Homo sapiens: one gene and its partner. Changing the gene in region 2 together with the main gene of any one other region gives a genetic interaction. Each region holds a gene or a part of one and is shown on either strand. Other genes may lie near its edges. The genes, in order: SPPL3 and LPAR6.

The links.
Region 1: changes in LPAR6 (region 2) and SPPL3 together harm fitness less than expected from each alone (positive genetic interaction), as found in Homo sapiens cells (one large-scale study listed by BioGRID).

The regions. Positions count from the first base shown.
Region 1 is NC_000012.12:120,901,428-120,905,989, forward strand, and holds the start of SPPL3 (signal peptide peptidase-like 3), read right to left. Parts: upstream 2,932-4,562; 5' UTR 2,441-2,931; coding exon 2,418-2,440; intron 179-2,417; exon of another isoform or gene 1-178.
Region 2 is NC_000013.11:48,410,454-48,414,565, forward strand, and holds LPAR6 (lysophosphatidic acid receptor 6), read right to left. Parts: upstream 2,661-4,112; 5' UTR 1,971-2,660; coding exon 936-1,970; 3' UTR 685-935; downstream 1-684. UniProt on the Homo sapiens protein: Binds to oleoyl-L-alpha-lysophosphatidic acid (LPA). Intracellular cAMP is involved in the receptor activation. Important for the maintenance of hair growth and texture.

The DNA of each region.
Region 1 (4,562 bases), on a different chromosome or scaffold from region 2:
TAAAAATACAAAAAAAAGCCGGGCATGGTGGCATGTGGCTGTAGTCCCAGCTACTCGGGAGGCTGAGGCATAAGAATTGCTTGCACCCGGGAAGCGGAGGCTGCAGTGAGCCGAGATGGCGCCACTGCACTGCAGCCTGGGTGACAGAGCGAGACTCCGTCCTAAAAAAAAAAAAAAAAAAAAAGGAAACTGCCCACTTTCCCCAGTCTCCCCTTATATGCCACCCTCTCTCCAGATAATGTAAAAATTTTCTTCATCTCAAAACCTGCCAAAGGTTGAGGGGCTAAGCTCCCCGATTTCAAGGAGTTTCTTTGCCTGTAAAGCAAACAGAGCTGACATTGAAGGAAGTATTTTAGTAGAATAAATTTGTAAATTGTCAAACTTCACAAAGTAATCCCTCCTTAATAGAGCCAACTAATGTCAGAGAGAGGTCGTGTGTGTCCAACCTACCTAGTAAAACATTTTCATTTTCCCCATTTCTTGACCACTGAGTTTTCTATTCTTTCAACCATCCAGGGCCTCTGTACAGCACAGTAAAAACAGCAAAGCAGCCATTAGGACTCTCAGGGCCACAGCCATTAGGGCCAGAGTATGAGAAGCTCAAGATGAGTAACCACAAGGCATGACAGAAACACCTTTACCTTCATTTCTTACTCTGTCCAGAAGGAAGCTGAAATTGTAATCTTGTGTTCCCTACGACCTGCTACTGAAAGGCAGCTGTCACGCAAAACTATGAAATTAGCTTAAACCTCTTTTTAGAGCACGTGTTCACCAAGATTTTAATTCTTCCTTTAGGGTTACTTTGTCTCTCAGTTACCTTCTTCTTGAGATTGCACATACATCAATGAAGTTCTCTTAAGAATTATCATCTTCAATCCCCAACTCCCTTTCTCTTATGTGAAGACTCAATGAGTTACTGACTTATAACCTCTAACACTATAAATAATCCACTCAAAGTCTTCTACCTAAAACCATTCCTTATTTTCTGATATTACCCATTTCTTAGATGTTTCTCTAGGATAATTATAATTAATGTAGTAAGATCTGTGGCACTTCACAGTTTGCCAAGTGCTTTCTAAATGTACTCACTTAATCCTTACAGGCTGTGGAAAAGGTAATTCCCTCTATTTTATAGGTAAGGAAAAAGGACCGAAGAACTCACTACCATGTCGTATCAACAAAGCAAGTTGGTGGCAAACCGGACCTCCGAAATAGGTCTTCCAACTCCACACGGCATGCTCGTCCCATTCTATTATGCTCTTTTCTAAGAAGGGAATGTCTACAGTTCTGTCCCAAACCACATTTGCTTCAAGAGTAAACCATCTTCAAACCATTTCTCTAAATTGCAATCAGGTCCCCCACTCCTACGATCATGCCATTTCTTGCTTCCTCACTCTCCAGCTATGACTTCCTTCTCACTACCCGATTTCCACTCTTCATGGATACTGCCATCATTCCTTCAACCCGTCCTGCAAATATCCCACCTCTACATGCTAAAGGGAGACCCCTCATGTTCCTTCCCCCAAACCCTGGCACTCCCTTCTCCGGATATGTAGGTTGTCACCCCATAAACTACACAGTAGCTTCTCGCTTCTCGGCCCTTAACGAGCTACTTACTAACTTTAAAAGCCCCACAGAAATGAACTTAACTTGCAGGTCCTCCACCTCCACACTTGGCCCTGGGCGCCATTCCTCTGAAAATAATAGTACCAACCCTTACAAAGACTCTGCCCATGCCCCACTGTCACCAACGAATTCCTTTTCCAGAAGGAAAAGGAAACAGGTTCTTCAGGCTCCTCTTCCAACCTCTTCACCAGTGACTCCCCTCCAAGGTTCGTGGACTCTACCCCCGCAGTTTTCCTCCCCTCACTCCCGGGCCTCTGCCCACCTCACCAACTCTCCCTGCGCTCCCTGTCCCAGAGCCAAGCGGCGGCCGCTCCACTCTCCCAACTTAGAAGTTCTGCCTCTATCACCTGTTCTCACTAGAGCTTCCTCTCAGCCCAGCGGCCCACCTTTGCCCTGGCCTGCCTCTCTCCACCCCTTCGAGTCCTCCTGCCCAGGAAACACCCCCACGAGTCAGTTCCGGGGTGCCTGTCGGATTCAACTTCCCATCCGTGGGATTCCCACCCCCGGGGTCATGCTCCCCTTCTCCATCACCTGCTCCGCCCATAGCCAGATGACATCCGCCGCTGCCTCCTCCTCCATTCCCCTTCTCGGACGCCAGGTCCCCGGCCACTCACCGCCCTCCGTGCGCGCCAGCCGCCCCCTCCGGTGGGGAAGAGGGGGGCGTGCACCCCAACCCGCGCCCCCCCCCCACGACACGCACCTGTTCTTCCTCCTCTTCCCCTCGGCGGGCCGCGCCGGCGCCCCGACCCCCACCCTTGCCGCCTCCCGGCCTCCCGGAGCCCCGCACTCACCACGAGTAGGTCTGCTCCGCCATGGCGCTGCCTCTCGTGGGCTCCGCTGCAGGCTGTGGCCGGGCCCGGCGGCGGCGGGCTCGCTCGGGCCGTAGCTGAAGGCGCGGCCGGGGTCCGGTGCTTGCTTGCTTGCTCGCTCGCTGGCTCGCTGGCTGCACGGCGGGCCGGGAAGGCGGCTGGCGGGGAGAGGCCGGGCTCCGAAGCGGCCCCGCTCCCTGGGCCCCGGGGCGGGGCGGGCTCCGCTCTCGGCCTCCCTCACCCGCGGCGGCGGCGGCGGCTCCGCTGCAGCTCCAAACCCAACATGGCGGCGGCGGCGGCGCGGAGAACAAGGGGGCCCTGGGGCGGGCGAACGGCAAGACGGGCCCGCGCTCACTGCGCGCGGGGCCGCGGGAGCGCCGCGCTCGGGCGGCGGCGGCGGCGGCCGGGGGACATGGCCGGCGGGCGGAGGCGGCGGCGACTGAGGGGGGCGCTAGGCGATGAGGCGAGGCCACTCGATCACACCCGCCGAGGGGAGGAGGGGCGGGGGCGGGGGCGAGCCTTGGCCCCGCGCGGGTCACGTGCCCAAAACACGCTCACGTGATGCGCGCCCCGCCCCTCGAGCCGGGCCCATGCGCAGAGACGTCGGCTCCTGGGTTCTAGGCGGCTGCTGCTCGCACAGCCAGAGCAGTTGGGCCGCCTCCCGCTGCCTGGTGCCGCCCCCCTCCCCACGCGGAGATGTCGCCTCGGGTACCCTCTTCCGCCCCTCTCCGAGGGGCTGCTGCACCAGCCAATCGGGAACCCCGATGCGCGTCTGTTGGCTGCCACTCAGCTGTCAACCGTCAGTCAACAGTCTGCTGGCCACGGGCCCCCCAACTGTCAGTCAACCTGTCAGTCAACAGGCAGAGGGCTGCATTCCTTCGTTCGTATGTTCCTTGGTTCATTCATTCAGGTAGCAAATATTCCAGGCAGCCAACCTTTATTGCGCCCAGGCCCGGCACCAAGTCGAATACCCCACGCTTGCCTTCACAGAATCAATCAACAGATATTTGTTGGGTGCCAACCATGTGTCAACTCACTCTGCCTTCCTAGAGCTTACATTCTAAAGGAAGAGACATAGTCCAAGCCCACAAATAAGATAATTTCAGATGCTGCTAAGTTTTACAAAAACACATTTTGTAACACAAGGTGAGGGGACAGAGAGTGAGCAGAGGTGTGGGTTACTTTAGATAGGGTGGTCAAGGAAGGCCTCGCTTAGGAGGTGACATTTGAGCTGATATTGAATGATGACAGAGAGCTGGCCTTGCAAAGATCCACAGGAAAAGAGTTCCTGGCAGAGGGAACAGCAAGGGCAGAAGGCTCAGGAAACCGTCCATTTGGAGGTCTGGAAACCGGCACAGAAATAAACACGGTAGAGCTAGACCAGAGACCAACAAAGTGAATCTGGAGCTTAGATGGAGAGAGAAGAGAGAGATTAATTGAGGCCCCAGGTACTGCGGAATGCTTCCCCAGGAGTGGATGAGGCCGTCTGAAAGGGTGAGAGGCTTATCAAAGAAAAGTCATTCTTTTGGCCGGGCGCGGTGGCTCACGCCTGTAGTCCCAGCACTTTGGGAGGCCGAGGTGGGTGGATCATGAGGTCAGGAGATCGGGACCATCCTGGTTAACACGGTGAAACCCTGTCTCTACTAAAAATACAAAAAATTAGCCGGGCGTGGTGGTGGACGCCTGTAATCCCAGCTACTCAGGAGGTTGAGGCAGGAGAATGGCGTGAACCCCGGAGGCAGAGCTTGCAGTGAGCCGAGATTGCGCCACTGCACTCCAGCCTGGGCAACAGCGAGACTCTGTCTCAAAAAAAAAAAAAGAAAAAGAAAAAGAAAAAGAAAAAAAAAAAAGAAAAGGCATTCTAGAAAGAAAGAATGGCATGAAGTAAGGCCCAATTCCTGGTGAGCTTGAATCCGAGAGTGGGATGGGTGATTTGTGCTGGAGTGTTGAGAAAATATACTGAGAAGGTGCACTGAGGCCAGACTTTGAGGGCCCAGCTAAGCCTCCTTGCCAGTTACTGTGTTCATGAATAAAAATGATTAACCAGTGCAGCTTCAGAATTTAGAAACATGCCTGGGCAACAGATACACTAACCCTCCTGGACACCCCTCCACCCCCACCCTTCAC
Region 2 (4,112 bases):
TACCTAAGCAAGCATCATAAGCAACACGTGACAGTATATTACTTTCTAAATGCCAAGTACTATATTTCACTATCTCTGATGTTTCTCCGACCTAACATACTTAAAACATAAGTTCTTGACTGTGATGTAAGTGCACCTTTAAAATGTACCTCTGGTAGTATTTTATTTTTTTGCTAAGTAAAAACTTAGCAAAATGACATTTTATTAGTTTTCTCCCTCTCAATTTTTGTGGCATATATCATTTTGAAATTGGGTGCATTATATACAGAAAATCAAAATAGTAACTTCAAAGCATACCATATAGATAGCATCTGCTTTCTACAAATTGCCTACACAGACCAAACTCCCAAAATGTTATCAATGTGTTACTGCTCAAGATCTTCCAACAATGTTAATATGTCATCATTTCTACAGAAGACTACGTTTTTAGTTATACATATATTTTAAAATACTCCCAAAACATTTATTTCAAATTACTCTTCTTTCTCATTTGTTAATCATAGTTTAAGAAATATGATTAGTAGTTTTAATTCAAAATAAAAATGGTATGTTGAATAAAATATTACATAAACATAAATTAGTATAAAATAATTTAGTAAATTAAATCATTTAATATAAAAAGGAATTCAAAGACATTACAGATTGGCACCACATAATTTAAGTCAGTCACTTTTAGACACTAAATAACTTTAAGAGATTTTTTTTAATGAAGGAACAAATCAAAATGGCTCAGAAAAATCAGATGGAGTGGATACACAAATAAAATACATGTTAATGCTTAACACATTGAATACAAATTTTCTTTATACTAAAGACTTTAAAATGTCCATGTGTTAATTTCTTTTGGAGGTGGAAAAATAGTTTGTCCAAAAAGACACTTTTCACAGTTGAAGGAACTTGAAAGTTCTGTCCCAGTGAGTCCTAATGGTTTTATTTCAGGCAGCAGATTCATTGTCAAATATCTTACTTTTTAAGGTCTGTAGGTTATGCTGAATAAAATTCTCTGCACCATGAACTTCAGAGAATCTGAAGTCACTTCTCCTGACAGACCAGTTTTTCATTTTTATTGAATTCTGAATTGTGTCCGATGTAAAGTAGTAAACTATAGGGTCAAAACAACAGTTGGAAACAGCAATACAGAGAGTGATTGGGTACATTGTCCTTACTGCTGCCACTACTGAGCAATTAACAAATGTTTGTGTTCTCACAAGAGAATATAAAATAAGATTGATATTGTAAGGAACAAAACAGAAACAGAATATGATCAAATGTACAAAAATCATTTTTAAAACCTTAGTTTTGTTTATTTTGCTTCTACTTAATGTAACAGGTTTGGTTAAAGTTTTTAGCACCATACTAGAACAAGTTACATTTAAAATTAGAGGAATAAAAAATCCCACTATTTCGATGAAAATTACAATCCTTGAGAGATATGTTTTCCATGTGGCTTCTGGAAAATTTTCAAAGCAGGCTTCTGAGGCATTGTTACCCTGAGAGTGGGTAGACTGAACAAAAACGGCGGGTGCACTTCCTCCGATCACAGTTAACCACACGCCAGTGCAAACAATCTTTGCATTTCTTTTGGTTCTTAGAGTCTTTGACTTAAATGGGTAGACAATTGCCAGAAATCGATCTACACTAATACAGGTTAAGAACAGAATGCTTCCGTACATGTTGGTATAAAACAGCATCACAGAAATCTTACAAAGTAAATCTCCAAATGGCCAATTCCGTGTTGTGAAGTAAAAAATCCTGAAGGGTAAAGTAAAAACAAAAAGCAAGTCTGACATTGCCAAGTTAATCATGTAAGTTGTAGTTTCATTTCGGACTTTGAGGACGCAGATGAAAATGTATATGGCAACACAATTGGATATTAACCCAAGCACAAACACCATGCTGAACATGCACCCATACAAAGTGTACTTAAAGGAGTCATTATAGAAGCAGTGGGAGCTGTTAACGCTTACCATCGTAAAGGCACGTCCAATTTTCAGTTTGGAAGCACTTTCATCAGCTGCAGTCTCCTTTGGGATTCAGATTATAACCTCTATAACCTCCAATTTATTTGCAAATTATCTGGATCTTTGGATGGTTTTATAAATATTTCCTTTTTCTCAGAAATACCCAAAAGAAACATGAAATTTGTTGCTGTAAAATTTCCGCTGGGTTCTTCAACAGGAAAATATTTTCATTTGTTAGTCTTTAGAAAATCCATGAATTCCAAGGCTCAGTTAACTGACGAGCAACCTTTAAAAAATACAGTCAACGAGTCCAACCCATAGGATTATAAATTTAAAGAAAAGCTGTGATCTGTGACCAGAATGAAACCACTTGTCTTCTAAACTTGTATTTCAGTAGTCAAGATGAATACTCCAAAGTTAATGTTTCTTTATGCCTCAGAATGTTAAGCTTAAGTTATCAATCTTATTTTCTTTTCAGTGCAGAGTTTCAGAGACTTAAACATTCCCAATTTGTCCCATTTTACTTCTTGCTTCTTTTAAATGAAGTTTTCCTTTTTTGTTTTCCTGCAGTGGATCCCAGATTGTGGGTAAGCAGAAGAGTCTTTTAAAGATTCCGAAATAAACTCCCAAGCTTGTTAGCTCTTGTTGAATTGAGGCCTTTTCCTCAGTTGCCAGTTGTATCTTGAGGTCGCTTTCTCTGAAGTGAAAAAGAAAGGCTTCCTAGATTTGTAATATGACATCACAGGAAGAAGAGGCTGGGTTTGGACAAAGAAACTTTCAGCCCAGTTTGTTTGCACTTCCTTTAATCTGATAATGTGTCTGCTGGGAATATACCTAGGAGGCTTGCAAATGGTCACTGGCTGTTGAACTGCGTGGTCTGCTCATTAACTCTTTTTATGTGGAAATGCCTTCTGCGGTGCTGGCAACCTCTCAGAGTTGTTTTGATTTGTTTCAGTAGTAATAATTGAAAGAAAAAAATCACTATTCAGCCTGTTCTCTTATTCGATTGTTTTCGTGTTTGGGATATGACAATTTAGAAAAGAAAATGTGTATGGGTGTGTATTTATAAATTGAAATTGTTAGTGATATCTTAACATAGCATTTCAAAGAACTGTTTAATGACTATGAAACAGGGGCCTTTAACCTTTAAGGTATAACAAGCATTTGACTCTTGGTTTCTGAAAAATACTCAATATTTAATTGTTATCATTATGAGTAGCTCTTATCCTGGGTCTCATTAGTTTTTGATAAGCAATTTTCTAACATTCTTTCCTCTTTCCTATGCAGTTGTATTAATATTTTAGAGCTGTTTAAATTTTTAAATTACTCATTTCTCCAAAAGAACAAACTCAAGAATGTTTATCTTTGGTGTGGTGTTAATTTTACTTTCTAAGCACAAAATGAAATTGCATCTTTTTAAGCAAAATTTTTTTAACCTTAAATTGATTGAAATAAGGTTTAGAGAATAAAAATCCTACTACTTGGCAAAATTTTAGGTTCATAGTCTTATCTTCCTTCTTCCTCCCAGCTCTTCCCTTAACCCCTTAATATGACATTAACTATATATTGAAATATATTTCAGATTTTGTCTCCATCTAAAAGTTTCTATGAATGGTTTATATGTTTATATTTAAAGTATACTCATATTTTGGGCCAGGTGCAGTGGCTCACGCCTATAATCCCAGCACTTTGGAAGGCCGAGGCAGGTGGATCACCTGAGATCAGGAGTTTGAGAGCAGCCTGGCCAAAATGGCGAAACCCCATCTCTACCAAAAATACAAAACTAGCCTAGGGCAATAGTGCGTGCCTGTAGTCCCAGCTACCCAGGAGACTGAGGCAGGAGAATCGCTTGAACCTGGGAGGCAGATGTTGCAGTGAACCAAGATCAAGCCACTGCACTCCAGCCTGGGCGACAGCGAGACTATCTCAAAAAAAAAAAAAAAAAGTATACTTATATTTTAAAGACTCCAAAATCAGAAGAAGAAAGTGTGTGTAAGGTGAGGGTACTTAAATGTAGGTGTTATTTCCTCAAAGATTGAGGATATCACAACCTCTATGGCACATGTTTTTCTTGTTTTAAATATCATTTTCTTCAGAAAAGGCTAGATCTAGTTATGCCTTACTGTTATTATTTTTTTAATTTGGTCTAGT